Linked DNA regions of Homo sapiens. The protein of the gene in region 1 purifies or fractionates together with the protein of each later gene. This does not show direct contact. Each region holds a gene or a part of one and is shown in the gene's direction. Other genes may lie near its edges.

Region 1 (15,345 bases):
ACATCGTTGGTGTAGAATGAAGGCATCAATGTGCTCAAAATGCTTTATCAAATGACCTGCTTAGCATCATATTTTAAACAGATATCTAGGCCTGCAAAAAGTTGCAAGACTCTAGCCCCTTGTACCGGTGTGGTAAAAGGCAGGGGAAAGGGACATTGCCTGGCTAAAAGAGGCTTGCATAGTCTCTAGAGCACTCTCTAAGAGAAAAGACGCGATGTGCCTCTCCCCTCTCTTACAAGCAGGTTAGCTTTCAGGCAAGGCATTGAGCACCGCACCTGGAATCACCACAGCGTGCTGTCGAAATGCAAATGTTAAAGATTCTTGCAACAAAAGAAAAGTTTTATTGTAATCTCTTGATTTAGACAAGCTTTCTGCGAAATTATAAGAAGGGTAGAGACCTATTCCTTCTTATAGTAGCATCTGCTCCCATGGATGGTGGTGAGATCTGGGGGAAGAAGCTGCTACCTTCTAGTTCAGGAAAAGAGCCTAAACCTTCCTATTTAAACAAGAACACAGGAGACAGATAAGGTTAATGTCCAACACTCCAAAGCCAGGGGATGTACTATCAAGTCACTTTGAGAGGCAGTAGGATTGATTATCCTTGCACCCTTGCTTTGCAAAACAAATGTGAGCTCTGTAATCTCCTTTCTCGCTTTGATTAAATGGCTGTGTAAATCGGATTACATGGAATAATTCCATTGAAAACTAGAAAGAGGTCAATCTAGTCTGAAACATTGTGACTGTGGCATTAGTGACTCAGTGCTGCCGACCAGAGAAATTTGAGAAAGCTAAGTATTTTAGATATGTGACCTGTTCGGTCACACATCACACAAGTTAAAGTGCAGGCCCTTTGGGGGAACTTGCTGATGTTAAACGGCTTGTAGGCAAAGGAGGGCAGTACCCTTGTTGAATGAAGGCATTCATTGCCTAGGATCTAATGACCTTCAAGGTTTTTTTTAAGAATACTTCTAGCGATTCCACAGTCACTGAAAAAGGGGACACTGGAAATAGCCCAAAATCAATAAAATAATCTGCAGAAATGGAGGAGGGGATTAGATCTTTCATATTGTTAAATTTTCTAATCCAAAAATTACAAAGACATTTTCTGTGCAATGCTGCATGGATGGAAGGTAGCCTATGTAAATTGGACATTAAGAAATAGGATCGATTGTTCTGATTCTAATGTTATCCTCACCAGGGAAGAATATCTATTAATATTTAGTAGTTTAAATAGTCATTTATAAACATGGCATCAATACCATGGTTCTATTATAAAGCAACTTGTTCTGTACTCTCCTACTACCCCACATATAAAAAAAATTTATAGTAATATTTTAAAATGGGGTTTGATTTGAATTACACAGCTCTCCAAGAATCATGGGGACTCCAGGTATTCTGGCCTTTCCGTCAAGCTAAGTAAGTGTGAAAATTCCATCAACAACCACTTGGGGTTTGATGAATGATTCATTCATTTAGCATGTTGGTACACTTCAGTATTTCCAATATAATGACACAGGCAATAAATTTAAGCACAGTTCTACAGAAATGAATGTCTTTTGAATTTTTCAGATTTCTGTTTGATTTTATTTTATTCAGATTGTGTGGTTTTACAGTTTTCTAGAGGTGTTTGTGGCTTGGGCTTAGAAAAAACATCTCTTTCAATGTGTAACTATTTTTTAAACATAATATTCTGATACACCATATTGGATAACAATCAAGGCACCATATTTTGCAACACTGATTAAGATTTGGTTAAAAGTGCCATTAGCTTAATGTGCCTGGTGTTACATTTATCAATGTTGTGCTTACATTTTAGTTTGGGGATGGTTTGTGAGAAGTGTCATAACTCCTGTCAATTTCAGAAATACTGAGATAAGAAAGATTGATCTTGCAAACAATGTAAAAAAGGCCATTTTAGGCATACTAACTCTCAGAGAATAAGCAAATAGAATGCTAATTTTCACTACTCCAAAGAAAATATCTCTTTTATGTCTGTATGAAGTTTGTCATGTGGGTGATGATGCAAGTTTACTTTGTAGAAGAAAATTAACATACTTATGAAAAGAGCATTTTTTTAGTCTTGTCCTTAAGATCACTCAATTTGGAATGTATGCTTTGAATAATTCCAATTTATGTAGCTTTTAATTGATACATTCTGCCAAGACTTTAAAACCCAAGTGCTAAGTTGATTACATTTAACATAAAACAAGGAAAATAACCATATGGAAATCTGAAAGTCTGGGCCAAACCAATTAAAATTGCTAAATTTTATTTACGTCTAACTGCTGATTTGAAGATAGCAAATTCTGGGTCACATTTTTTTTTTAATAATAGGTGACTGAAATGTTTCCATCACCATAAATCACATAAAAATTTCTCACTCAAATAGCAAGTGTGGGTATTGGAGGTTTTTTACATGGATTGGCAAATTCCACTACATGTGGCCTTCGCTTTATATCTGAGAATAAACCATATCTGAGCATATATGAGAAACACCTAAAATATGGTTGGTAGAAGGATTCTAGGTTCTAGCTTCTGAAGACTTAGATTCTAATTCCTGTTTTACTACTCATGAGACAAATGACCTTAGGCAAATATTTGTTAAACTTTTTGGGATTTCTGTTTTTTGTAATCTGTATGATGATTATAAAAGTTATAAAGATTTTTCTCGCATGGTGGTTTTAAGGACTAAATGAAATTTTATATGTGTCTTTATACCAGCATAGTAGCTTACTATATGTACAGTTTGAATTTATTGTTCCTGAGAAGAGAGTGCCTGCTGGCCTACTTTTACAAGCCAGAGAAAAACTGACTTATTGCAGGTAAATTATGCCTAATGAACCAAGCACAGAGACCAAGTTTTCCTAAATCTACGTCTGTCGATTTGGTGACTCCCATGATAGGCTAATATCTGTTTATAGACTATAATTAAGACACATCAATCCAGGAATATGTGAAGACAAAGGTGATATGTGGGCTTAAGAGGTGCTACGTTTTTGAAGGTTTTTCTTTTAAAGTACAAATGAATGAGATAATTAGAATAGAAAATAGAAATGGAAAATGGAAATATTATCTTTATCGCTGACTCAGTTTCATATTTCTACACTCTTGCTAAGTTCTCCTTGTATGATTCTAAGGAATTATTTCATTTTATTTTATTTTATTTTGGACTAAAGAGACTTGGTTAGTTTCCCATCCCTAATGTTCTCGCACTTGCTTTTCTGAGTGAGGCCATGCATTCATTTCTGTGGGGTGTCTTTGTTGTCTTTACCAGGCAACGTGCAGTGACATTTTTTTTTCATTATGCTAGTTTGAGACTTTTATTTTTCTTTTCTGGATTATCTTAATGTTCCCTTTTGTAAATTATTTTTATTCCCTTTTGTAAATTTTATTCCCTTTTGTAAATTAGGGCAAGGCATTTGGATATAAATCTCTGAAGAGTGATCTTTTATCTTTCTTTCTAGCACATAAATCATGAGCAGCTGCAAGAAACTGTTCTTGGTCTTACACACTGTTCTTGGTCTTAGTCACGTGTGTAGACAGAACAATTTACAAAACAAGTTGAGGGAACACCAAGATATTTTTATAATATATGCTGCTTTCAGGGTTGTTTTGTATAGGCTCTGTTTCATAGAAACAATTGACTGCAGCCTTTCTGATTTATAGATGCAGCAAGATGTGTTTGCCTTTTCACTTAATTATGGGTATACTAAAAACTGTTTACAGGGGCTGGGAGTTTAAGAGAATTGTCATGATCTCATCTCTACCTATTTCTTTCTCTATAGAAAAAAGAGGTGGGGGAGTGATTTTCTCATAGTTGGGGCTCATGGTTCTTTCTTTAAAATCATAATGTGTGTCATCTAAAGGAAGACTGTTCTTTATGTACCTGTCTTTGTCCTTTGGCTACATTTTACTATTTTTGTAGGCTGCCACTTTGGCTTGGATATTAGGAGGCTGATTTCTTTTATTAACCTGGATAATAAGTAGTAGTAATTTGGGAAATTATTTGAACTCCAGATCTTAGTTTGCTCAACTGTAAAATGAGTAAGTGAGACTAGGTGATTTCTAAGTGCCTTCTGGTTCTAAAATTCTCTATTTCTAAAGTACTAGTAAAATAGATATTTGAACCAGATGGTATTTAAGCTTCCTTCAGTTCTCAGATTTATGCAGCCATTGCTTCAGTGTGAATGCACATTATAACCATTGTTTTATGATTATGAATAAGCCAATGGGGAGAAATGAAGGAGATTTAAATTTAGACTGTTCTACTTTTATGCATTTCACCTACTGCTTGATATTTCTTTGTAAAAAGAATGGTATTTACACTTTCCTGTTTTAGCAAAATCCATAGTTAAAGAGGATCTTTACTTTCTCTGTTCTAAATTTTTAAGTTCTATGAAAAAGAATTCTAAGATAAAGTCAGCTAACCAGAGGAGATAAGCTTACAAAAGGTAATGCTTCCCTGTATTTGCCTGTTTTTTTTCTGTCCCTTTAACTTCCAGTACGTGTGTGCATGGAGTTGAAATGGAGAAAGAAAACCAAGAAGGGATCTGATGATGTAGTAGAAAGAGCACTGAGGGGAGAATCAGAGGAACTGATCCTACCCTTTGCTCTGCCTCAAGATGTGTGACCTTGGACTAGTCTCCCAGTCTTAGTATCTCTGAATCATGCCCAAGATAGTTAATCCTGAGAAGATAGTGAAGATGAGAGGCTGCAGCTGGAGACACGGAGGTGGAAAGAGGAGGGAGCCTCAGGGAAAGGCAGTTCCTGCAGATGATACTATGCCAAATCTCTCCTTGGCTGGCTTTTGTCTGGGTCCAGTACCATCCTTGGAACAGTGCTTGCTTACCTCCTTTCCTTAGCTGAGAGCTGGAGCAAACCCAGCAGCTAGCCGTAGCCCTTTTCTTTTTTTCTTTTTTTTTTTTTCTTTTAGCAGTCAGAAGCTATGGCAGTCTTTTCTTGTTGACATGAGAATATTCCAAGATCAGCTGGACCCTCCTCAAGCTAGGAGAACACACATTTCTCAGAAAACAGGGCCACAACCATGAAGATAATGTTCTTCTCTAATCACTGGCATTGCCCACTGAGCTATCCACTAAAACAAAGTTTAGAATTGAGGCAATAGTCTAGAAAATTTAAAAAAAAAAAAAAGTAGCAATGGCTATTATTGGGATATTTGGATGCAGAAATTCAGCACTTGACTTTGTGCCTGTAGCTGTTGCCCTGGGGCTCTTGAATGCTGCTGATTAGAACATGGGTAAATTGGGAGGGAGCGGGGCAATAAGGTAGCCTTTTCTGTGTTCCAGGTACACAGACAGCAGCTCAAACTTTGTCTGTTGCTCACAAAGAATGCCTTTGCTCTTTAGGGTGACCATGTAAAAGGACATGAAAGGACCACCGCAAACTCATCGGTGCTCACTTGAAAAAGCAAGCCTTGTTCACCTTTGCAGAAAGGGCATCCCCACTGCATAATTGCATCCCTGTGCAAACCTGGGAAGAAAGAGCACAGGTTGGAGGGGGGCGTTGTGTTTGTCTTGTATGCCCATACTGTGTTGCCTTTTCAGGAGCAGAAGTTCATCTGCTGAACATAAGCCCTGTGAGTGCTTAGAACTTTTCCCTCTTTTTCACCTTGACATAAAATCCCTAAAGCTGAGGACCTTTCCCTTTCAATGTCTTCACTCTGCTCCAGGGCTGAATTGCATCTCATTATTGGCTTGTTTCACCTAAATGTGAGTATTTGAGTGGCAGTGAACCAGGTTGCCTCTAAGGAATACAACTGAATAATGGTGGTCTATTGTGAAGGAACCTCTTAGGGCCCTACAGTGCTGAGTTTTCTACTGTTTACTTGGAGTTCCTTTCTCAGTGCCTTCCCAAACAACTGCCTTGGGAAAACACACAGATTCTTTGGCTTCCAAGAAGAGTGTGACAGAGAAAGTGTGCTTTGTTATAAAGGCCTTGTCACCCTCCTGGATGTGTTATCCATATCGATGTACTGGCTGTTAAAATTCATGTTCACTGCAGAACTCTAGATGGAGGAGTGGTAAGAAGGGAGGGTAGAGATGTTTTCATATAAAATTGTTTCTAATGTGATCTAGAAAACCCAAGGATTGCAACACAGACCTCAGCAGTCATACATCATTATTTATGGTTCTGTGTAAATGTACAATTTAACGCTTCTGAAATAGTAAACACATTAGGGATTTCCTTTTTTGATGAACAACCAAAAGCTCTGTGATTGCTTTAGTTTGGATTTCTCGCAACTTTAGAAAACTGCTGTATTCCGTGGGCCCTACTCATAAATCTTTGATGTGCTCTGTTAGTCAGAGGACTGACCTTAGCACATTTGTCATTCTGCTGTTTGAAAGATACATTATCACAGTATAGGAGAATGGCTGGTGCTTTCTACTTCCAGGTGGTCCAAAGTGGGAACTAAACAAAATGAGGGGATAATAAAGGGATTAGGCAACATTCATGAAAAATTCAGAGGAAATTATTAGCATAATGTTTTTACTATTTGGATGACATTAATTGTATGTAGAAAAGCACTGAACTACAAAATAGGGCTTACATAATTCTTCCAATATCTTTGTAACAAATTATATATATATATATATATATATAATAATGTATATAATATATATATAATGTACATATTTATATTTATTCTTAGCCCCTGCCCAGAAAAGTGTTTTTAAAACTTTACTTCCTGTTTGTAATGTACTGAAGCCACAGTACTCTATGCTTTAATAATACTTTAAAAATAATGTACCTTTTTTTAAAATATGAAACTAGGGTCTTTAAGAAAAAAATGTATTTAGGCATTTATTAGGCTTGCTTGATTTATTTCATATATAGATACACATATGACTGTAGCTAATTTTAATTTAAAATTATAAGTAGCTTCTAATAATACTAGCAAATCCTTATATAATGCTCACAATGTCAGGACCTGTTCTAAGCCGTTTGCATTTATTTATTTATATTTTTCAATAATGAGACTTTTAAATCCAAGACTGATTTGACCATTTATTGTTTGCACTTCTGTACAAATGTCACACATAATGATTCAACTTGAAGAGATGAAATTTACTGTACTATGTGTCAAGTGTTTGGCATTTAAATGTGTAGCCATTTTAAATAGCTTCTATCATTATATTATAAAATCAAACCATCCTGATAATAGATCATGCCAAAATGGCACTTAGTAGAAAACAGTTCCAAGATTAATTAATTCACAGCACTTTTCCGCTGAGAGGTAGTTATTATTTTTTTAAACCCCATTTCACAGATAGGAAAACTAAGACAAGGTCTTTCTCCTGCCAATCCCAGGTGTTTATTGCAAAAGAGACTCAGCTGGCATTAACCACAGCGCATTAGTGTGGCTTATTTAATACCTCAAAGATATGCATTCTGTTTACATGAACATTGAATCAAAAACAAATGCAACTCAGATGTTCAAAAAAGCTGCCAGTAATAGAATTTGGACAACAAAAATTTCATGATTGCAGTTGCCTCAAAGAGTGGCTCCTGCCAACTGCTCAGTAAATACACTTGGAATGTTGTGAAATGAATGGAGACCTAATTCAGGTTGTTAGATACTGATACATTTTTTATAAGCCTTTTTTCTAATGGCAAAATTTTAACAATTGTGCTAGGTCTGTTATACACACAAATGTGTTTGGTGCATGACTGGCAAGGCTACTTTGTTTACTATTTTACAGCATTAATTTTCAGTGAATGCATAACATCATTTACTTAGTGAAACTGGAGACAATGTGAGAGAATAGCAAAGGTTTGAATGGATATAGATCAAATGTAGTATTGGTTCTGCCACTTACCAACCCCAGTAAGTTTTTCTCTTTGAACTTCACTTTCTCAATATTTAAAATGGGCACAGAAGTAACCACCTAGTAGTAGTATTGATGTGATAATTAAAAGAGATAGACTGTCTAACATCACAGCAACTGGCACTTACTTAATAGAGCATTGTTTCCTTCTCTAAAAGAATAGTAAATCACACAGAACATTATACAAATCTGTATGCTGTAAGAAATAACTTCAGTGTTAGTAATTCCTGGCTTTGGCTATAGGGCTTTCATAAATAAAAAAATTAAAACCAATCCTTAGAGACTAATAGCTTAACTCTCTTATTTATACGTTATCTATCTTATTTGACACTCATAAACACCCTTAGCAAATTTTTAGAAAATTTTCCCAATTTTATCTTCTTTACTTTTCTCCCCTTTCTGTTGAAAAGAAATAACAAAGTAGGCCAAAGACAAGCTGTTTAAGAAGTAAGAGCAGCTTACTGAATAAGGAAATATAAGACAAATTAATAAGTTAATAACTGTGAATTACTCCCCATGGGTGAAACACCATGCCACAAACTGCACAAGTGTATCTCATTCGATTGTAGCAAAATGTTGTAAAATACATATTATTATTTGGCATCATTTTTTTTAACAAAGAAAAATAAAAACCCTGAAGTTCAGAGAGATTAAGAAAACTTGCCCAAAATGAGAATTTAAAAAGTGCAAGTGGAAGAGTTTGTATTTGAAGCCAAGCCTATTTAAATCTAAAGGCCAGATTCCTTCTAATCACTACAATATAATGCACCAATATAGACACGCATGCATACACATACAAACTGAAAGGGTTGAACTTCTTTGTTTTTTTTTTGTTGTTGTTGTTGTTTTTTCTAATTTATTTGTGGAGAAGAAGATGCAATTTAACTTTACACCAGAAAGACTGAGAGCAGGCAAAGCTGAGTCCTCTGGTTGAGTGATGAGTTGCTTCTGACCCCACACTCCTCAGTACTTACCAGAAGTGTAAATGGCTGTATGTGAGCAACACTCCCACAGGTCAGGGAGCCTGGGTTTCCTCATCAGGCTTTCCCACCCATCTCCCCAGCAGTCAAATGGAAACCCCTTGCCTGACTCATCTGACTGTTGTGAGGGAATCTCATTGTAAACTCTAAAGATGTCGTCTTACTTTATGGAATCAGGAATTACTTCATTGCCAAAAAGCTTTCTGTCTTTCAAATAAAGTGGTACTTTGTTGGCAGAGGGCAGATTTTAAAATATTTTAAAGTTATGTTTCAAAATAACTTCTTGGAAATAGAAAGATACTTCAGAAAGTACTTTTATCAATTTGCTCTGATCCTCTTTACATGATGTTTTGGAAGATGGTTTTAAATGTCTGTGATCATATTAGGAAATTATTTGATAATAATGTCGTTTATGTCTGGCTTTTAAAGCTACCAGCCATTTATATTGTGGCCTTTGTTTTGTTCATTTCTTATCAATCCAACTGCATTAATATTAAAAAAAATATTTTCTGCATTAATATCGCAAGATTTTAAATGGGTGATTGTCAGCACAACCTTATCAGCAGCATCACCTTGTAACATACTCAATAGCAGTTTAGTACAAATGAAAATGTTGGCTAAAAAGTCCTGGCATCATCTCAACACAGGTAAAGGAGACAACAGAACAGAGATGTGCTTAACCAAACTCTGCAGTCAGATGGTCTGCTTTGGTTGCCTAAGAACGAAAACCTCTTAGCCTCAATTTCCCCATCTGCCAAACAGAATGAGCAATGGTACATTTATCATAGGTAGTTATAAGGATAAAATGAAATAATCCACAAAAAAGCACTTAGTCCAGTGCTGGACACCAAGAAAATACTAAATAAACATTTACTCTTGCTATTACCATTAAACAAATGGTAATGTAATGCTTATCAATAGTGATGGCTCCTTTCTTAAAGAAAGTGACTTTAACTGCAAAATCTCCACTACCAGAGTGAAAGGGAAAGTTGAAGCAATTTATCCAAGTAACTCCAGCCTCAAATTCACTTTTGTCCTGAGTAATGTAGTTGTTTTTATTCTTTTTTTAAAACAAAAACTGAAAAAGAAAAATGTGTATAATTAGAATCACAAAAGAGTTTACCTAGAGCAAAGTTACTTCTTTCTATCATGTGCCCAAGATCGCGGCACCAATATGTGGTGGCTGGCTTATGAAACAGATTCGGATTCAGAGCTCGCATTCCCAAGCTCTTTGCTTTACCTGGAATTAGGGGGACAGAACATGAGTCATTCCCATTTTGAATCAGTGAGTGATTGCCTACTTTTCCCTATATGAGTGAAGTCATTTTCAGCATCCATAGAAATATAGCCACTTGTCAAAAGAAAATGGAAAGAACATGGCTTTTGTGTCAAAAGCATATAGATTTTACCTCTGGCTCTTGACTCTAGCTTGACATGGGACCTTAGGCAATTTATTTATCTTTCCTTAACCTTCTCTTAAACTTCTGTAAAATGGAAGAATAATACTTTGCAGCTTCCTTCTCTTGTTTCCTCACTCTTTTTTCTCTCCCTTCTTTCCTTGTTCTTTCCCTTCTTTTTTTTAAAAACCTGGAAATAATGTTATATACCTAATTTGTAATCACGATTCACAATCACTCAAATAATTGTACTATTAGAAAACAATGTTTTTCAGAATTAACACGGTTTCCTGCTCTAATTTTAAGAAGTAAATTATATTTCTCAAAGTGTTTGGCTCATTGGCCTTGTGTAGACTGGAAGAAGCATGGGGTTTGGAGTTAGACAGAATGAGAGTTAAATCTTAGCTCCACTATTATGATTACAACATGATATTTATTTCCTTCCTCTAGGCCCCAATATCCTCATTGGTGTAATGGGGTTGTAGGGGTAATAGTACATAGTTGGAAGAACACAAGAATTAAATGAGATTATAGTCTGGGCATGGTGGTTTATGTCTGCAATCCAAACACTTTGGAAGACAGAGGCAGGAGGATTGCTTGAGCCCAGGAGTTTGAGAACAGCCTGGGCAACATAGTGAGACCTTGTCTCTACAAAAATATTATAAATAAAATAAATAAATAAATAAATAAATAAATAAATAAATAAATAAATGAGATAATATGTGGAAATTGTCTGACCCAGAAGTGATGCTCAATAAATTGTATCTGTAAGCTTTAGGGAATGGATTATGCCAGCAGACACATCAGTATGTATTAGACTGTCTGCTCTGTGTCTGTAAGGATGTTGACACATGTTGGCGACCTCACAAGTTGTGAAAGTCAAGAGAGTTAATTAACTGAGCAGTGCTCTACATACTATACTGTCCATTCAGAGGCCTAGTGTTGTTGTATTGTTCTCAGACTTGAGCAATAAAAAATATAAATTTTCCAAGTACATGAAAACTTTAGTTTATTAATGTCTTCTAAAATGAGCCTCAAATTAGTTTTTGTATAGTATGATCATGAATAGCTTTGGAGACTCATAAATCTGGAATCATCTCTTCAAACTGTATGACTTTGAGTCACTTGATTCTTCGGATAACATTCTGATTTTCTCACTTGTAAAATGAGGTTTATAATAGTGTCTAAGTCCTAAGGTGACTGTGAGGATTAAATGAGCTAATGCATAAGAAGGGCATTAGGACAGGTACCAGAAAACCTCGGTAAATGTTAGCTCCTTTCAAATAAAATGCAGTTTTGCATTCAAAGGTTGTTCGTTTGTTGTTTTTATTTTTTTTGCATGTGTTGAATTTAATAACTTTATAGAATCAACAGTTTGGAAATGTTTCCATTATGAATTCAGGTTTTATTTTCTTGTCAGTGACTCTGTTTAGTTTAAGGGCTTGGTTGTCCAGATTCATCTTTGAGTAAGTTTTGTATCAATCAAGACAGATGCAAGTTACTTTTATCAGTCCATTACTTCAGGTAAACAAGCATTCCATTCTTTGACAGAACATTAAACTGTTATGTTCTTTTTGATGGAGTGCTGATTTGTTCAAAACACTTGTGAAAGAGAGAAAACAGCTCCTGTTTTATAACTCTTTTGTAATACAAAGTTTGTTTCCAAAGGTTTTCTGGAAGTTTCTTGATTGAATCTTTGATTGTGGATACCACAGTGATTAATTTACCAAGCCGGAAAATGTGGGAAGTAATTTTGGGTTCAGTTCAGAGTGGGATCTAACACAACACTTTGAACCAATATTAAAATGCAGAAATCTCTTTTAGATATTGAAAAAGAAAAACAAATATATATATATTAAAGTCCCTGCTTTTAAGGCCTAAAGGAGAATGTAGTAGAAACACTGACATGTGTAATTTTTGTGAATTGCTTAGGAACAGAATTAGATTTAAAAAGGAATTCCTTTTGCACTTTTCCCTGAAGATTTGTGTCCTAGCATTTGAGGAGTAATACAGGAAAGTCAGAACAAGAACTTACTGACAGCGCAGGAGATCCATGTCCTAAATTCATGTATGTGGTACTGTATTGCTATGCAGCTTTCAGGATGTCCATTTTATTGTCCATCAAAATGTAGGGGTAGATCCTATAATTTTAAAGGTTCTTTCTAATGCACACAATCTAGAGTTATTAACAGAAGTCTGACTGTGTCATTACCCTGGCTAAAATCCTCTACCGACTTTACATTACCCTCAGGATAAAGTCCAAACCCTCAGCACACTATACAAGGTCCTCTGTGGTTTGGCTGTTGCTTATCTCCACCACTCCCGAGTGGTAAGTTTCATTCCAGCGTCACCTAACTATGTACAATGACATACCAATATTGCTGCACTTGGTTTCCAAGGCCCTGAGGGCCTCGCATTTGGGTAGCTTTGATGGTCTCTACTCCAGGAAGTCCTCCCTGACTTTTGTTTGCTCTTTTTCCTCAGCCCCTCTCCCTACTATGTTGTTTAGTGATCTTACCCTGAGCTCCTGTAGCATTTAAAAAAACAATCATATCACTTATCACATTATATTGAAGTTATTTTTTTACTTACCTAGCTAAGTTGTCTAACACTGGTATCCCTAGCTAGTGGCACAGTGCCAAAATATTGATAAAGGTTTTCTGAACTAAACTATGAATTTAATGCCAAATGTCTCTTTGAGGGACAACATCCACCTGTCAGCATTCTAAGAATGGATCCAGACATTTGACAATTTTGTGCCTGCTGACCTCAGCAGACACATGAAACTGCATGTAACACTGTCCTGTATAAACATACATACATTGTTCAAACAGAATTTTCCTCAGAGAGAGAAATGATAAATGAGCCACTTTGGGTGGTAGAAGAGAATGGAGACAGTAAATTAAAAATAAATAAATAAATAAAGGAGAAGGTGAGGCCATTGCTTGCCATTCTTAAGGAAATGACACAATAGGCTGAATGACAAGGGCCAGTTAAAACTCGCTAATGCCAGATATATGAAGACTTAAGAACCAGAAAGGATTTTAGGGCAGAATATTGTTGATGATGATGAAGAGGAAAAATGTTGATTTCCGATGCTTATTCTCTGTGCCAGGTCCTGAGCTAAATGTGTTACATACTTTATGTCTCCTGATTCTCCCCACCTGTGAGGGTGGTGGTAGTGTGATTATTCCATTTGATACAAGAGGAGGAATCTGAGCTCACAGAGGTTGAGCAAATTTCTCAGCATCTTACAACTCTCAGTCATCAAACCTGATCTGTTTGTTCCTAATTTCTTGCTTAGTATTAGTACTGTTGACATTTTATTTTCTCACCTAGAGATTTTGTTTGTTTGTTTCTTTGTTTGTTTAAATGGAGTCTCGCTCTGTCACCAGGCTGGAGTGCAGTGGTGCAATCTCAGCTCACTGCAACTTCCGCCTCCCAGGTTTAAGTGATTCTCCTGCCTCAGCCTCCTGAGTAGCTGGGATTACAGGCACGTGCCACCACTCCCGGCTAATTTTTGTATTTTTAGTAGAGATGTGGTTTCACCATGTTGGCCAGGATGGTCTCGATCTCTTGATCTCGTGATCTGCCTGCCTCAACCTCCCAGAGTGCTGGGATTACAGGCCTGAGCCACCGTGCCCAGCCGAGATTTTTTTTGATACATAATAATTCATGAGACTATTACAAATATGGTAAATGGATTCTTCCTTCCCAGCTCACCCACACTCAAGATGCTTCCTTTAAAATTCTGTTAACAATTTGTGCTAGTTAATAGGTAGCTAGTGCAATACTCAAGTAAAGGATGTTGTGTAGTTTTGGATACTGAGATGTATAGTCTTTGTCTAAAAGGAGTTGAAAGACAGAAATATGACAATATGAGAGGGTTTAGATGATTCTATTAGAATGATATTTATGTATTTAAAACAGATATGGTTAAGGAGTTCAGCAAAAATAATGTCTCAATACATAAGATCAGAGATTAAGCGTGGAGGAAGAAAGTTGGAGAAGGATTAACAAGAAGTGATGTTTTCAAATTTCATGTGTGGTTAGAAGCCATCATCTTAGTGACTCAAGGCAGTAATACTACTGCTTTACAATACAGTGCTCTAAAATAATGTTACAGATATTGCATGTACTTTTAAAAACATATATCATTTTGGGGATACTCTTTGATGCCAAGTTTAAAAAATTCTGAAGTGTTTAAAATGATACAAACTTAGAGCATGATCTGTGTTCCTTTTTTTTTTAATCAGGTAAGCTTCTTGGTTTTGGGTGTAGATCTGAAAAGTTAACATTTCTTGAACCAATAAAATGTTTCCAGTTTTATATAATTATATCACAAAGTCTACCTTCTGCCTTGATTTGCAAAGAAAAGCTCCAAAAAGGACCATAAAGAAGAGGAGATAACACACAAATGGTGAGCAATGAAGTAGATGTACAAAATGGTTTGTGCAGATTTGGCACTTAAAACATACAGCAGCCGAAGTACATCTTAAATTTCATTTAGTGAATATATTGCTCACGAGTCCCTCTCTTCATTTCCTGAGGAAGTAGATCCCTATTCTCTCCCATATGGTGAGAAAATCTCTTTGCTATCCAGTTTCCCTGTTTACATTTGTTCTTCCATCCCCTTCTGATTCCTCAGCAAAGCAGCTGCTTTGAAAAGAAGCTCAAAGGATTACCTTGAAATGGTTACCCACTCTCCCCCTTTTCTGCTCCAAGAAGAAAGTTTCTTTCTGTATTTTCCCAGCATTATTAAGAGTCAAGACTTGAGGCCTTAAGGTACATTTCCTATATTCTTCTTTTGTTTTAAACTTGAAAGCAAAATAATCTTCCCAAGTCTACCATGAGGATGAATTTCAGAATGCACAATAACTTACATTTACCGAGAAAACTGTTAAGTCAGAATCTTCTAAAATAGAGATAACAATAACAAGTGTGATGCCAGTACTCCTATCCTGATACATTGTAAAAAATCATCTCCTTCCTTACTGTGTCCTACATCCTTTTTTCTTTTCTTTTTTTTTGAGATGGAGTTTTGCTCTTGTTGCCCCTGCTGGAGTGCAATGGTGCAATCTTGGCTTACTGTAACCTCTGCCTCCCGGGTTCAAGCAATTC
Region 2 (15,345 bases), on another chromosome or scaffold:
ATGACAATGTATGCATTAGTAATAGCAGCAAAAGGGGCTGGGGAATCCCAGGACTGTCAGTGGCTCAGATTCCTCTGGAGTGGGGGTGGGGGAGACAAACTGGGTGCTTCCAGTGGAAGACCTTGAAGTTTGGTGGTGAGGAAAAGAGAACATGTCCTGTCCTGTGAATGTAACCTGGAGAGCCGTGTGGTCAGGCTGCTGGTGAGAGGTGGACTGGAGGGAAGAATTTGATGACCCCCTCAGTTGTGGAGCTAACTCCTTAAAATGATATTCTGTGGAAAAAAACAGGGAACCCCCCAGCAAAGTGTTGGTCCAGACCTCAGTTTGCTCCTCCTGACTGCAGCATCATTTTGTTGCAGAAGAAGAAAGGAGGGCGCGGGCTAATGACCGAGAATACAATGAGAAATTCCAGTATGCGGTAAGCGACTCTAGACCACCTGTTCCCTCTCTCTGTTTGGAGAGGGGAATGGGGCAAGGACAACCTACCGTTGGGACTGAGGGCTGCCTGGGAAGAGTGCTTGGGGGAGGGGAAGCAACCTCCTCAGCCACTCTCCATCTGCTATCGTGCTGAATTTTTCATGCCTTCACCTGTCAGTGAAGCAGAATACATTGACCCCCTTGAGACTCCCTTCTCTCCTCCTCTTTCCCCCTCCCACACCTGTGTTTGCTAGCTTTTGGGGTAGAGGTCTGGGGAAGTATAAAGATGGGGGAGGCAGCCTCAGTCTGGTTCTGGGTTGGGACTGGAGACTGCTCATTATCTTCTCTCCTACTGCCATAGAGTAACTGCATCAAGACCTCCAAGTACAATATTCTCACCTTCCTGCCTGTCAACCTCTTTGAGCAGTTCCAGGAAGTTGCCAACACTTACTTCCTGTTCCTCCTCATTCTGCAGGTAGGTGACCCATAGTAGATTTTTTGCAGCTCCCCAAACTGAATAAAGCCAAGGAAGAGGAAAGGGAATGAAGGCATCAGATGGGGCCTCAGAGGCATACTTCTCTTTCTTTTTTTCAGTTGATCCCCCAGATCTCTTCCCTGTCCTGGTTCACCACCATTGTGCCTTTGGTTCTTGTCCTCACCATCACAGCTGTTAAAGATGCCACTGATGACTATGTGAGTGGTTTTCATTCTTCTATTTTGTCCCAGTCACCCACCCCTACTCCCAGCCCCACCCCCATCTCATGGCCACCTTCATCCAGCACAATTTCTTGGTGACCTTGACATCCCTTACCCGGTCCAGCTAGATCCATGATGTCTTTTTGCTGAGCGTGGGGAGAGGGAATCAGGGAGTGAACTGGTTTGTGATGGGGTGTGTATGAGGCGTTAACCAGCATGCTCTGAGTTCTACTGATCAACGAATTCCTTCGAGGCGGGGGAAGGTGTCTTACCTTTCAGTTTTCTTCTTTTCAGTTCCGCCACAAGAGCGATAACCAGGTGAATAACCGCCAGTCTCAGGTGCTGATCAATGGAATGTGAGTGCCTGTTGGAGACAAGAGCTCTGGGGACGAAGGGGGTCCCTTAGGAACCTCTTTAGCTCCTGACAGCCTCTTCACTGTCTTCTCGTTGCCTCAGCCTCCAGCAGGAGCAGTGGATGAATGTCTGTGTTGGTGATATTATCAAGCTAGAAAATAACCAGTTTGTGGCGGTAAGGGACAGGGTACCCCTCTAGGCCTGTAGGTTCTTCCTCTTCTTTGTGAGAAAAGGATGAATCTTTCCTGATTTACTGTTGCCTCTTAAACACCCGTGGCAGGAATCTTTCTCACACCAGGGGCTTCTGTGTCATGCTGATATGCCTGGAACTAGCCATTTATGCACCTGGAACTAAGCAAACCAAGAATGCTTAGTGGAAGGAGCCACCATTACAGCCCACTGGGGGTGGAGGTTTGCATATTTGGACTTCTCATTAGTTTTTCTCTCTAGGCGGATCTCCTCCTCCTTTCCAGCAGTGAGCCCCATGGGCTGTGTTACATAGAGACAGCAGAACTTGATGGGTAAGTGGCATGCTCAGTGTCAGCCCTCTCCTTCTGTCTCTTTGGAGGTAAAAAGATTGTCTTTGAATGAGGTTCTCAGGCCTGGGCTCTGTCTGAATTTGGAAAAATTAGGGGTAAGAAAGGCTTTGGATGGGATGTGTGAAGTGTTATTCAACCAGTATTTGCTGGGCTGAGCAGTTATGCACCATGCTTAGGTGTCACCAGGTAGAATTTAGAGGATGGGGAGAGGTGGGCATGGTGACTCACTCCTGTAAATCCCAGCACTTTGGGAGGCCAGTGTGGGAGGATTGCTTGAGGCCAGGAGTTTGAGACCAGCCTGGGCAAGATGGTGAGACTTCATCTCTATAAAACAAACAAACAAAAAATTTAAAAAGTTTAAAACTTAGCTGGGTATGGTGGTTTTAATGCCTATAATCCCAGCCACTTGGGAGGCTGAGGCGGGAGGATTGTTTGAGCCCAGGAGTTCGAGGCTTTAGTGAGCTATGATTGTGCGACTGCACTCCAGCCTGAGCAGCAGAGCGAGACCCCATCTGTGAAAAAAAACATTTAGAGGATGAGGAGGGAGCGGGGACTCAGAGATACTGTCCTTCCAGCGAGACCAACATGAAAGTACGTCAGGCGATTCCAGTCACCTCAGAATTGGGAGACATCAGTAAGCTTGCCAAGTTTGACGGTGAGTAATTTTGGAGGAGCAGCCTGAAGGTAGAGGAGTGGGGTTGGGTTTTGTTTGGGGGCGTTAAATTATACATTTTCCTTTGGGCTTTTTGTTGTTATTATGCAACTCCCTGGACTGTTTTGGGGAGGGGAGTGTTTGTAATGTCATGTGGCTCCCTCTTGGTTTTGAGTTTATAATTATTTCAAGGGGACTTTGTGGCTGATAGCTCCCCACTTGCTATGCATGTTGAGAGAAATTCAGCTTATTCTTTTAGCTTATTAGCTCAGAATAATAATATGTGTTCCTTATAAGACAAACCATACAGAGTGTATAAGAAAAAGTGAATAGAGGTCGGTACCATGGCTCACGCCTGTAATCCCAGCACTTTGGGAGGCCGAGGTGGGCGGATTGCCTGAGGCCAGGAGTTCGAGACCAGTCTGGTCAACATGGTGAAACCCTGTCTCTATTAAAAATACAAAAATTATTAGCTGGGCGTGGTGCTGCATGCCTGTAATCCCAGCTATTCAGGAAGCTGAGGCAGGTGAATCCCTTGAACCTGGGAGGCGGAGGTTGCAGGGAGGCGGAGGTTGCAGTGAGCTAAGATCGTGCCACTGCACTCCAGCCTGGGTGACAAGAGCGAAACTCTGTCTCAAAAAGAAAAAAAAAATACAAAAATTAGCCGGGCGTCGTGGTGTGCATCTGTAGTCCCAGCTACTTGAGAGGCTGAGGCATGAGAGTTGCTTGAACCTGGGAGGTGGAGGTTGCAGTGAGCCGAGATCGGGCCACTGCACTCCAGCGTGGGCAACACAGTGAGACACTGTCTCAAAAAAAAAAAAGAAGAAGAAAATAGCTCTTCCTTCCTCTTCTACCCTGCTGAAGTAGCCACATTAATTGACAGTCAGTGTGTGCTCATCCACACTTTTCATACATGTTTGTACAAACAAATATTAGGTCATGCTGCAGCTTTTTTTTTTTTTTTTTTTTAAATACTCCTGCCCAGGTTGGAGTGTAGTGGTGCGATCTCGGCTCACTGCATCCTCTACCTCCCAGGTTCAAGCGATCCTCGTGCCTCAGCCTCCCGATTAGCTAGAATTACAGGCTCCCACCACCACACCCGGCTAATTTTTGTATTTTTAGTAGAGACAGGGTTTCACCATGTTGGCCAGGCTGGTCTCAAACTCCTGACCTCAGCTGATCCACCCGCCTTAGCCTCCCAAAGTGCTGGGATTACAGGCATGAGCTGCCGCGCCCGGCCTGCTTCATTATTTTCCTGAAGAGTTGCATCAGCTCACACTCCTCCCAGCAGCATATGGATGGGCCCTTGCCCTTGCATCCTCTTCGCTCAGCTCATTTTCTCTTTGTTTTATTGTCTTGTGGTTAGGCTGTAGACTGGACCTTAAGCAGTGGAATTCTTGTCTCCTGTTCAGGTGAAGTGATCTGTGAACCTCCCAACAACAAACTGGACAAATTCAGCGGAACCCTCTACTGGAAGGAAAATAAGTTCCCTCTGAGCAACCAGAACATGCTGCTGCGGGGCTGTGTGCTGCGAAACACCGAGTGGTGCTTCGGGCTGGTCATCTTTGCAGGTGAGCCTCCTAGCATCCAAAGAAAGAAGGGTAAGAGTGACTCAGCCAGCCCTCACTCAGGAGTATGGGATGAGGTGGGAGAATACCTAAGGTAAAAAACCTCCAGCTGTGTATACAGGCTTCTTATCTAGCCAGTATCTCTATTCCACCCTGGTGTCCTGCAGTCTGGGGATCAGGGCAGAAGCCCAGAGGCAGATGTGTTATTTGGCTTTCCCAGCCCTTCCCATTCTTTTCCAGGTCCCGACACTAAGCTGATGCAAAACAGCGGCAGAACAAAGTTCAAAAGAACGAGTATCGATCGCCTAATGAATACCCTGGTGCTCTGGGTGAGGCGCCCCACATCTGGCTCCCTGCCCCTGCCCTCTCTTCTCCTTGGGTGCTCCTTTTCCTTTCCTCTTTCTTCTTTGGTCAGTAGACTTCAGGTTTGGCTTTAAAGCTGCTAGCAGGTCAGCTACACAAAGGCAGTGTTTATTTTAGGCTCCTTTTAGTTGGAAGATGTTATTTAAAAAAACTTCAGGAACGTGCATGAATCAACAACTTAAAGCTAAAACAAATCATCCCTTCTCTGATTCCAGTTATGATGATGACTTTGTGAAGCATGTGACCTTCTGTTTGCTTTTGCCAGGGACAAGGAGGCCTTCATGGGGATGGAGAGGGAATTAAAAGAAAAATTTCCATTTGGAAGAGGTTGGCAGGGTCTTTTCCCCCCAACTTCTAAGAACGAAGGATCCCAAAGGAAAAGTTTCTGTTTAAGTTTTTGGCAGTTCCTGAATCCTTCTCTTGTTTAGCTAGAAATCTGAACTCCTTGTTGGGCTCTCCTCCCCTTCCTGTGCCCCGACTGTCTGCTGCCTGCCCGCCACATGCCAGCTTGTGAAGGCTGGGGCTAGCCTCTGGTGAGCTTGTTTCCGCCCTGGCTTTAAAGAGTGTGCGGAAACCCAGCCTGGTGGGCGAGGTTGTCTATCACATAAGGGCTCCAGTCGCCCCCTGGTGGCCATTGGGCACCAATCTCCTATTTTGTTTCAAAGCCTAAACAGCGGAGGCAGCTTTGGAAATAGATGTAGGAAATTGGACAGTGGCCTGGTTTTTTACCAGTCTCTCCAGAGACTCCAAAATTTATAAGATTTTTGACTAATCAGGAAATCTAGACCAGGAGTGGTGGCTCACACCTGTAATCCCAGCACTTTGGGAGACCAAGGTGGGAGGATCATTTGAGCCTAGGAGTTCGAAAACAGCCTGGACACCATAGTGAGACCCTGTCTTTACAAAAAACTGAAAAATTAGCCAGGTTTGGTGGCATGCACCTGTGGTCCCAGTTACTCTGGAGGCTGAGGCGGGGGGATTGCTTGGCCTGGGAGATTGAGGCTGCGTTGAGCTAGGATCATGCCACTGCACTCCAGCCTGGGCAACAAAGCAAGACCCTGTTTCAAAAAAGAAATCTACGTTTATGAAGATAAGTTTGTTTCCCAAGTTTAAAAAAAAAAAAGGCAATCTTAGCCAGGTGCAGTGGCTCACGCCTGTAATCCCAGCACTTTGGGAGACCGAGGTGGGTGGATCACGAGGTCAAGAGATCAAGACCATCCTGACCAACATGGTGAAACCCCATCTCTACTAAAAATACAAAAAAATAGCTGGGCGTGGTGGCGGGCACCTGTAGTCCCAGCTACTTGGGAGGTTGAGGCAGGAAAATGGCGTGAACCCGGGAGGTGGAGCTTGCAGCAGTGAGCCGAGGTCGCGCCACTGCACTCCAGCCTGGGCGACAGAGCAAGGCTCCATCTCAAAAAAAAAAAAAAAAGGCCATCTATGTGAGATAGTGAACATTACCGTGGCTTGGCATTTTTGTTGGCTTGTACCTAGCCCAGGTGAATAGATTATTTACAGTAAGTTTTCTGGTATGTTAAAAGTAGCTCATCCCCACTCTTACCAACTTTGAGGACTCTGGAAGGTTTCAAGGTGCCAGATTGAGAGCTAATCAACTATTTCAGTTTCTTCATCATATAGATGAAATAATGGTCAGACAGAAGGCCACATGATAATTGGTGACAGACTAGAACCTGTCACCAGTTCTGAGCTTTTTCCACTAGAGCAGTGGTGTCCAATATTTTGGCATCCCTGGGCCACATTGGAAGAAGAATTGTCTTGGGCCACACATAAAATACACTAACATTAACAATAGCTGATAAGCTTAGAAAAAAAAAATTGCAAAAAAAAATCTCATAAATTTTTTTTTTTTTTTTTTGAGACGGAGTCTCACTCTGTCACTAGGCTGGAGTGTAGTGCAATGGCATTATCTCGGCTCACTGCAACCTCTGCCTCTCGGGTTCACGTGATTCTCCTGCCTCAGCCTCCCTAGTAGCTGGGATTACAGGTGCCCGCCACCACACCCGGCTAATTTTTTTGTATTTTTAGTAGAGATGAGAGATGGGGTTTCACCATGTTGGCCAGACTGGTCTCGAACTCCTGACCTCATGATCTGCCCGCCTTGGCCTCCCAAAGTGCTGGGATTATAGGTGTGAGTCACTGCACCTGGCCTTTTTTTTTTTTTTTTTTGAGACAGGTTCTTGCTCTGTTGCCCAGGCTGGGATGCAGTGGCATGATCTTGGCTCACTGCAATGTCTGCCTCCCGGGTTCAAGCAATTCTCATGCCTTGGACTCCTGAGTAGCTGAGACTACAGGCAAGTGCCACCAGGACTGGCTAATTTTTTTAATGTTTTTAGTAGAGACGGGGTTTCACCGTGTTGGCCAGGCTGGTCTCAAACTCCTGACCTCAGGTGATCCATCCGCCTCAACCTCCCAAAATGCTGGGATTACAGGCTTGAGCCACTGCGCCCAGCCCATAATAGTTTTTTTTTTTTTTATAATTATTTTTCATTTAACATTCAGCTGTTACCAAAATCTCATAGTGTTTTAAGAAAGTTTATGAATCTGTGTTGGGCCACATGTGGCCCAGAGACCATGGGTTGGACAAGCTTGCACTAGAGCATCTGAGCTTTTGAGGGCTCAAGGGATGAATACATCACAGATGCACTTGGTTTTGAGGGCTTCCTACATGTCAGCCTCGCCTGTGCTTCTCATTCCTCCCCAGATTTTTGGATTCCTGGTTTGCATGGGGGTGATCCTGGCCATTGGCAATGCCATCTGGGAGCACGAGGTGGGGATGCGTTTCCAGGTCTACCTGCCGTGGGATGAGGCAGTGGACAGTGCCTTCTTCTCTGGCTTCCTCTCCTTCTGGTCCTACATCATCATCCTCAACACCGTTGTGCCCATTTCACTCTATGTCAGGTATGTGCCTTCTCTGACCTGGGGTCTCTCCAGGGAGTCAGGCGGTCCCATAGAACTTTTCTTTTCTATGAAGATGAAGTCCTTGAGAAGTAACGAGAAGTCCTCTTCTTCCTGTACTGTAAACATTTGATGTTATCTGTTTATCTTTGTGGGCAGAGCAAACTTTTTACCACAGTTTCCTGGTACTTGGGACTGTATTAGAGAAAAAAAAATATTGATTTATTCAGCACCTATTTATTACATGCCTACTGTGTACAAAGAAGTGTGCTAGGTGCCATCACAAATAAAAGATGAATTAGGAATGGATCTCCTTCCTTCTAGGAGCTTACGTCTAGTAAAGGAAGGAAAATCTAAACACATTATAAAACAAAATAGGAACCAGTGCTGTAGAATTCGACCTAGAGTCTTCTATGTGAAGCTTGGGGATACAGAGATGTATAAGGTGGCCTCTGCCTTTAGCAGCAGCAGATGGATAGGTCGAGGAGGGGAGATCTGGACAGTGTCAGACTGAGATACCATGTGGGAGGCACAGGGTGCCCGGGGACTGGGAGAGTGTCGCTCCCTAAGCAGGTAGGCAGAGAGGGAGAGATGGCATTTGCTCTGGGCTTTGAGTGGTGACTGGGCTGGATGAAGGTGGAGCCACAATGGAGAGGAGGCTGAGAGGGCTGGAAGCAAAGGTGTGGAGATGGGAGCCTGGGAATGGCCTATGGAAATAGTTGGCCAGGGTCTTGGGCCAAGAGCAAGAGCTGGAAACATAGCTTGCTCCTGATTGTGGAGGCTTTTGAATATTTGCCTGTGGACTTTGTATTTACTAACCATTAAAAGTTATTGAAAAGACTGGGCACGGTGGCTCACACCTGTAATCCCAGCACTTTGGGAAGCCAAGGTGGGCGGATAACGAGGTCAGGAATTCGAGACCAGCCTGGCCAACATGTTGAAACCCCGTCTCTACTAAAAATACAAAAATTAGCCAGGTGTGGTGGTGGTTGCCTGTAATCCCAGCTACTTGGGAGGCTAAGGTAGGAGAATCGCTTGAAACCGGAAGGTGGAGGTAGCAGTGAGCCAAGATCACGCCACTGCACTCTAGCCTGGGCAACGAGCGAAACTGTGTCTCAAAAAACAACGAAACAAACAAACAAACAAAAAAGTTTTTGAAGAAAGTCAAAAGAATGTATTCTGTATTCTAAAAATGCATTCTAAGTGTTACAGCTCTTTTAGAATTTGTCTAGCAGGTTTTCCAGTTTTCACTGGAACCCCTCCCCCACAAAAAGAAAAAAATGCATTCTAAAAAAAAACTAAAGAATGCTTTAGGAAGTATTGACTGGCAGTAGTGTACAGCATGAATAGGATCAAGGCAACATGTAGGATGTTTGAGGTAAAGAGAATGTTAGCAGGGACAGGCCAGTGAGAATGAAGGGGAGGATCGGAGGAAGACGAGGCAGGAGGAATGGCCAGGGGAAAGGAACTTTCTTGCTTAGTGCCTTGCACTTGAGATAAGGGAACCTGTGACATTTTTAAGGAAATGTTTTATGGAGGTGCTGAAAACTTGTCCTGTCTCCCATCTTTTGTTCATACAGATTCCCCAAATAGCCCTCAACTCTCTCCCAGCCCCCAATCTTACTGCTGGTGATAATAAATAGAAGATACAGCATTTCTGTGCTGAGAGAATATAGTTTAGGCTTTTCCAGGGTGTGAAGAGGAGAGTTGGGAGGTTCTGGGTTTAGTCCTGCCTCCTCACTGGCCATGTGACCTCAGGAAAATCCACGGTCACTCAGGGCCTCACTTGATCTTAGTTTTCCCACGTGAAACAGGAACAGGAGTACTTGTCTCACCTTTTAATAGGATGTCTTGATATAAGATATTGGCTTAGAAGATACATTTTAAACTTAAGTGACTGTACAGTTACTGGGTGGTAGCCTGCTCATTGTGACTGTTGCCACTCCCTTCTGCATTACTATTTAAATGCCTTTGTGCTTACAACCTAATTTTGTTTTCCCACCTATGGGCTTTGCTATCTGTGTTTTGTATCTCAGTTCACTTGAAGCCCTTGGGAGCAGCTAAAGCAGTTTTCTTTCTGAGTCTCATCAGGTCACAGTGTGTATGTTTCGGGAGGCTAAGAGGGGGTTGAAGAGCTGTGTGAGGAAAAGGCCCTTTGGAATGTGAAGACATTCCCATTTGCCTGGTAATGGGATCCTGATAGGTGCCTTAGTCAGGTGGGAAGCAGGGCTCTCGATAGGGCCCCATTGCTCGGCTGCACTGGACCTAAACATGGCCCTTTCTGGAAATGCTAACAGTGCATATGATTAGCAAAGAAGAGGATACGAACAGACCTGGAGATGTTAAAGGCACTATAGGGGCCAGGCATGGTGGCTGTCGCCTGTAATCCCAGCACTTTGGGCGGTGGAGGCGGGAGGATCTCTTGAGTTCAGGAATTCAAGACCAGTGTGGGCAACACAGCGAGATCCCATCTCTACAAAAAATGAAAATTAGCCAGGTGTGGTGGTGTGCACCTGTAGTCCCAGCTACTAGGGAGGCTGAGGTGGGAGGATTGCTTGAGCCCAGGAGTTTGAGGCTACAGTGAGCTATGATTACACTACTGCACTCCAGCTTGGGTGACAGAGACCCTAGCTCAAAAAACAAACAAGCAAACAACAACCACCACAATGCGCTGTGCCATTGTGAAGTGGTGGTGTTCTGCAGATGCCCAGGGCCCTCTCCCTCTGGAGTCAGCACCTCAGCCCTGCCCGGTGTTCAGAATCAGGAATGTAGTGCCCCAAGCCCAGGGTGGAAGGAGCGCACCCAGCCTGTGGTGGGACAGTGACGAGTGGGCTTCAAGCCTTCTCCATTTCCCCTCCCCGGTGCCACCCCTCTTTGAGGTGGCGTCTGTGTTGCTGTGGCATGCACAGCACCCTCATTATTTCTCTCTCTCTTTTCTCTCCCCTCCCTCTGGCACTTTCTCTTGTTTTTCTCTGCATGGTTTCTGTATTATTAGTCCTGAGGTAAGAACTGGCCGAGTGCCTTGTCTACAGCCCCTTTTCCTCCTTTGCTGTCTGTCCTGCCCACCCAGGCCCTTTGCACCTTCTTGTCTGGAGAGCATCAGGAGGGTCGGGTCGGGGCGTTCCTCTGCTGGCTGTGTGCAGCCGGCTCCACCTTCAGGCTCTCCTTGCCCTTTCCCACCCAGGTTTCTGTGCCCAGGTGTCTTCTCCGTTCTTGTCTCTCCCCAGGCGGAGGGCCTGCAGCGAAGGCCCATGTGGGTGGGGCACCTCCTCTTCTTCCCGACCCAAGCCTCACCTCTTGTCCCCTGTGCAGTGTGGAGGTCATCCGTCTGGGCCACAGCTACTTCATCAACTGGGATAAGAAGATGTTCTGCATGAAGAAGCGGACGCCTGCAGAAGCCCGCACCACCACCCTAAACGAGGAGCTGGGCCAGGTGGAGTACATCTTCTCCGACAAGACGGGCACCCTCACCCAGAACATCATGGTTTTCAACAAGTGCTCCATCAATGGCCACAGCTATGGTATGGTGGCACCACTGGGGACTGGGGGCTTGCACCTCGCCTGGAAGGACAGTGGAACTGGGGCCCCACAGTTTCCTTAACATTGGTTTTTTCTTCCTTCCTAGTTGGGTCTGAGGGGCCTAGAAGAAAGGGTCCATCCTGGCCAGGCACGGTGGCTCATGCCTATAGTCATAGCACTTTGGGAGGCTGAGGTGGGAGGATTGCTCGAGCCCAGGAATGCGAGACCAGCCTGGGCAACATAGTGAGACCACATCCCTACAAAAAATTTAAAAATTAGCCAGGTATGGTGGCATGCACCTGTGGTCTCAGCTGGCCAGTGACTCAGGAGGCTGAGATGGGAGGATCACTTGAGCCTGGGAGGTCAAGGCTGCAGTGAGCCATGATCTTCCACTGCACTCCAGCCTGGGCGACAGAATGAGGCCCTGTCTCTCGAGAAAAATCCACACACAAAGAAGAGGTCCATTCTGTGTCCCATGTCAAGAAGCAGATCCTGGCTGGGCGCAGTGGATCACCTGAGGTCAAGTGTTCGAGACCAGCTTGGCCAACATGGTGAAACTCCGTCTCTACTAAAAATACAAAAAATAGCTGGGCGTGGTGGCAGGTGCCTGTTTTCCCAGCTACTCGGGGGGCTGAGGCAGGAGAATTGCTTGAATCCAGGAGGTGGAGGTTACAGTGAGCCGAGTTTGCGCCATTGTACTCCAGCCTGGGCGACAAGAGTGAAAGTCTATCAAAAAAAAAAAAAAAATTAGATTCTGAGAGTCCTCCCCTTGTCCTCTCCTGATGCCCTGACCCTGGTCTCAGCTCCAGGAATTAGGGGAGCTCCTTGGCTGTTTGAAGTGAGACACTGGCCTCTGGGCATCCTGGCCAGGCGGAACCCTGCTAGACTCTCCCCTGTTGCTGCTCAGGGTCCTTGTGAGTCTGTGGAATGTGGCTGTGGTTGGACTTCCCAGTGTGGCCCGTGGCTGTGCTGCTGGGATGGCCTGGGGCAGCATGTGGGGCTGACTTTTATGCAGAGTGTGGACCCCTCTTGTGACTGCTTTCTGTACTGACTGATGCCTTTCGGTCAGTGTCTGAGCCTTGTCTGCTGCTCAGGTCTAATGGGTGCAAGGAGGCCTGGGAGGTGTGGAATTGGAGCTGCCCTGAGGGGGGTGCCGCCTAGGGTAGAGACAGGGATGGTGAGCAGTGGGTGCCGGGGCTCTTTCATGGCCAGGCCTTGGGGTTCTGGAATCTAGGGTGCCTGATGCCTCCTATCCCGCGAGTCAGCAATGTGACTGAGTGACTCACACTGTGACAGCTGCTCAGCGATTAGGGTTGAGGGGCTCAGTGCCTACGGGGATTCTGCATTGGAGATGTTTTTCCATGCTCTGGAGCTCTCTGGCTCTGACATTGCTTCTTTTTCTGCCCTGGCTGTATGTAGGTGATGTGTTTGACGTCCTGGGACACAAAGCTGAATTGGGAGAGGTAAGATTCAGTCTCCCTAATTCTATGTGCCAGTGAAACAGGGTGCCTGGCCAGTAACAGTGTAGTCAGGAGTGATGTGTTGTCTGGATAGGAAATGGAAGCTGCTTGGAGAAATGGGTGTTTTAAGGCAGAACTGGTGATGACGGAAGTGGAAATTTTGAGGTCCACCGTGGACAGGAGCCTACTGAGAGTTGGGAGGGCAGGGATGAACCCTTCCCCGGGATGCAGCCTGGCACTCTAGCCTTTCCTAAGAGCCTTCTTATGTGTTTCAGAGGCCTGAACCTGTTGACTTCTCCTTCAATCCTCTGGCTGACAAGAAGTTCTTATTTTGGGACCCCAGCCTGCTGGAGGCTGTCAAGATCGGGGACCCCCACACGCATGAGTTCTTCCGCCTCCTTTCCCTGTGTCATACTGTCATGTCAGAAGAAAAGAACGAAGGTGGGCCGAGGAGCCGGCTCGCACTCTCCTGACCTGACTCTGCCCTTGGGCTCTGCTCTGCTCTGCAATGCGGCTGGGCTGGGGCTTCCTGGGCGGGGCACGTGGCTGAGGGAAGCCACTTATATCACGTGTATTCTTCCTCCCCACCCAGGAGAGCTGTACTACAAAGCTCAGTCCCCAGATGAGGGGGCCCTGGTCACCGCAGCCAGGAACTTTGGTTTTGTTTTCCGCTCTCGCACCCCCAAAACAATCACCGTCCATGAGATGGGCACAGCCATCACCTACCAGCTGCTGGCCATCCTGGACTTCAACAACATCCGCAAGCGGATGTCGGTCATAGGTGAGGCCAGGCCTGGGGTGCTGGGGCGTTTGGGGACAGCATTCAGGCCTGGAATGGGTGAAGTGTGCCGGGTGACTCTTGATGTGTTTATGTTGGGGGTCTTTGCCTGTCTGAATTTTTCTGGCACTTTCTTCACCTGCCCCATTCATAGTGCGGAATCCAGAGGGGAAGATCCGACTCTACTGCAAAGGGGCTGACACTATCCTACTGGACAGACTGCACCACTCCACTCAAGAGCTGCTCAACACCACCATGGACCACCTTAATGTGGGTGTGAGGAGAGGAGGGGCCAGCCTGGGGGGTTCTACTCTTAGTGTGGGGGAGGCGACTTAAGTTTGTTTTATTGTGTAAATTTAAGGTCTACAACGTGATGTTTTGATGTGTATATATAGTGAAGTGATTACTACAGTCAGACAACTTAACACATCAGCCAGCTCCCATAGTTACCTCTTTTTATGTATGTGGTGACAGTCCCTAACTGTGGAATGTGGCACACACCCAGTCTACAGTGCAGGATTATTCATTGTCGCCCTCACGCTGTCCATTAGCTCTCCAGACTTACCCAGGTGTGCCTTTCCACTCTGCCTCCAGGAGTACGCAGGGGAAGGGCTGAGGACCCTGGTGCTGGCCTACAAGGATCTGGATGAAGAGTACTACGAGGAGTGGGCTGAGCGACGCCTCCAGGCCAGCCTGGCCCAGGACAGCCGGGAGGACAGGCTGGCTAGCATCTATGAGGAGGTTGAGAACAACATGATGGTACGGGCTGCGGGACGGGCCAAGGATGGGCACGGAGGGCTCATGCCTGCAATTCTTGTGCCAGGAATCCTTGTGGTATTTTCAGCTGCTGGGTGCAACGGCCATTGAGGACAAACTTCAGCAAGGGGTTCCAGAGACCATTGCCCTCCTGACACTGGCCAACATCAAGATTTGGGTGCTAACCGGAGACAAGCAAGGTGAGAGCCCAGCAGGGCAGAGCCAGTTGCAACTGACAGTAGCCCTGTTGGACCCTTGCATGGAGCCGAGGACATCAGGCAGGCAAGTGTGCTGACCTTGTTGGGTGCCTGTCCGTAGCTCCTGCGTTCTCTCTTGGTAGAGACGGCTGTGAACATCGGCTATTCCTGCAAGATGCTGACGGATGACATGACTGAGGTTTTCATAGTCACTGGCCATACTGTCCTGGAGGTGCGGGAGGAGCTCAGGTAAACAAGAAGCCCAGGGGAGGCGGTGCTGTGCGTTGTGCCCAGGGCTCAGGTGGGGGTTTCTGGACCATTTAGACTTGAATCCCTGCTCCCCACTGCCGTTCTGGAAGACCACAACCGTATCATTTCCACCTCGACAGGAAAGCCCGGGAGAAGATGATGGACTCATCCCGCTCCGTAGGCAACGGCTTCACCTATCAGGACAAGCTTTCTTCTTCCAAGCTAACTTCTGTCCTGGAGGCCGTTGCTGGGGAGTACGCCCTGGTCATAAATGGTCACAGCCTGGTAGGCATCGCTATCCTTAGCTTGGGCAGTATCTTTCCAGTGAGCACTTCTGTCCAGGGCTTTTATATCTTGTTCTAATTTCCCCTGATTTCAGAGAAGACTGGTCTCAAAGGGGACTGGGAGGAGCTGAGACTCCCAGGTGTCTCCTGGAAAGACTGGCTCTCTCAGGTTTCTCTGTGCTCCAGGCCCACGCACTGGAGGCAGACATGGAGCTGGAGTTTCTGGAGACAGCGTGTGCCTGCAAAGCTGTCATCTGCTGCCGGGTGACCCCCTTGCAGAAGGCACAGGTGGTAGAACTGGTCAAGAAGTACAAGAAGGCTGTGACGCTTGCCATTGGAGACGGAGCCAATGATGTCAGCATGATCAAAAGTGAGTGTGGGCTGTGCAGGTGTGTAGGCTGGGCTTGAGGCTGGGGAGGGGCCCACTGAGGTCTCTGGACTGCAGAAGAATGACGGGAAGGGGGTTGTAACTTGGTAGGCTCTAAAGTGTGTGGCCGGTGGCCATCTTCACCCTCTTGTCATCTCTTGTCTCTGCAGCGGCTCACATTGGTGTGGGGATCAGTGGGCAGGAAGGGATCCAGGCTGTCTTGGCCTCCG

Evidence for each region.
Region 2: the proteins of KITLG (region 1) and ATP8B2 purify together in Homo sapiens (affinity purification with mass spectrometry; 3 studies listed by BioGRID and IntAct, with this or other methods). This does not show direct contact.

The regions. Positions count from the first base shown.
Region 1 is NC_000012.12:88,563,872-88,579,216, reverse strand, and holds part of KITLG (kit ligand isoform b precursor), read left to right. Parts: intron 1-13,824; exon of another isoform or gene 13,825-15,009; intron 15,010-15,345. UniProt on the Homo sapiens protein: Ligand for the receptor-type protein-tyrosine kinase KIT. Plays an essential role in the regulation of cell survival and proliferation, hematopoiesis, stem cell maintenance, gametogenesis, mast cell development, migration and function, and in melanogenesis.
Region 2 is NC_000001.11:154,330,037-154,345,381, forward strand, and holds part of ATP8B2 (phospholipid-transporting ATPase ID), read left to right. Parts: intron 1-359; coding exon 360-418; intron 419-778; coding exon 779-892; intron 893-1,011; coding exon 1,012-1,110; intron 1,111-1,407; coding exon 1,408-1,469; intron 1,470-1,569; coding exon 1,570-1,642; intron 1,643-1,917; coding exon 1,918-1,988; intron 1,989-2,581; coding exon 2,582-2,661; intron 2,662-4,070; coding exon 4,071-4,229; intron 4,230-4,466; coding exon 4,467-4,555; intron 4,556-7,311; coding exon 7,312-7,508; coding exon of another isoform or gene 7,509-7,638; exon of another isoform or gene 7,639-7,810; intron 7,811-8,707; exon of another isoform or gene 8,708-8,766; intron 8,767-10,817; coding exon 10,818-11,026; intron 11,027-12,443; coding exon 12,444-12,487; intron 12,488-12,759; coding exon 12,760-12,925; intron 12,926-13,076; coding exon 13,077-13,265; intron 13,266-13,416; coding exon 13,417-13,532; intron 13,533-13,856; coding exon 13,857-14,021; intron 14,022-14,085; coding exon of another isoform or gene 14,086-14,106; coding exon 14,107-14,218; intron 14,219-14,336; and 8 more. UniProt on the Homo sapiens protein: Catalytic component of P4-ATPase flippase complex, which catalyzes the hydrolysis of ATP coupled to the transport of phosphatidylcholine (PC) from the outer to the inner leaflet of the plasma membrane.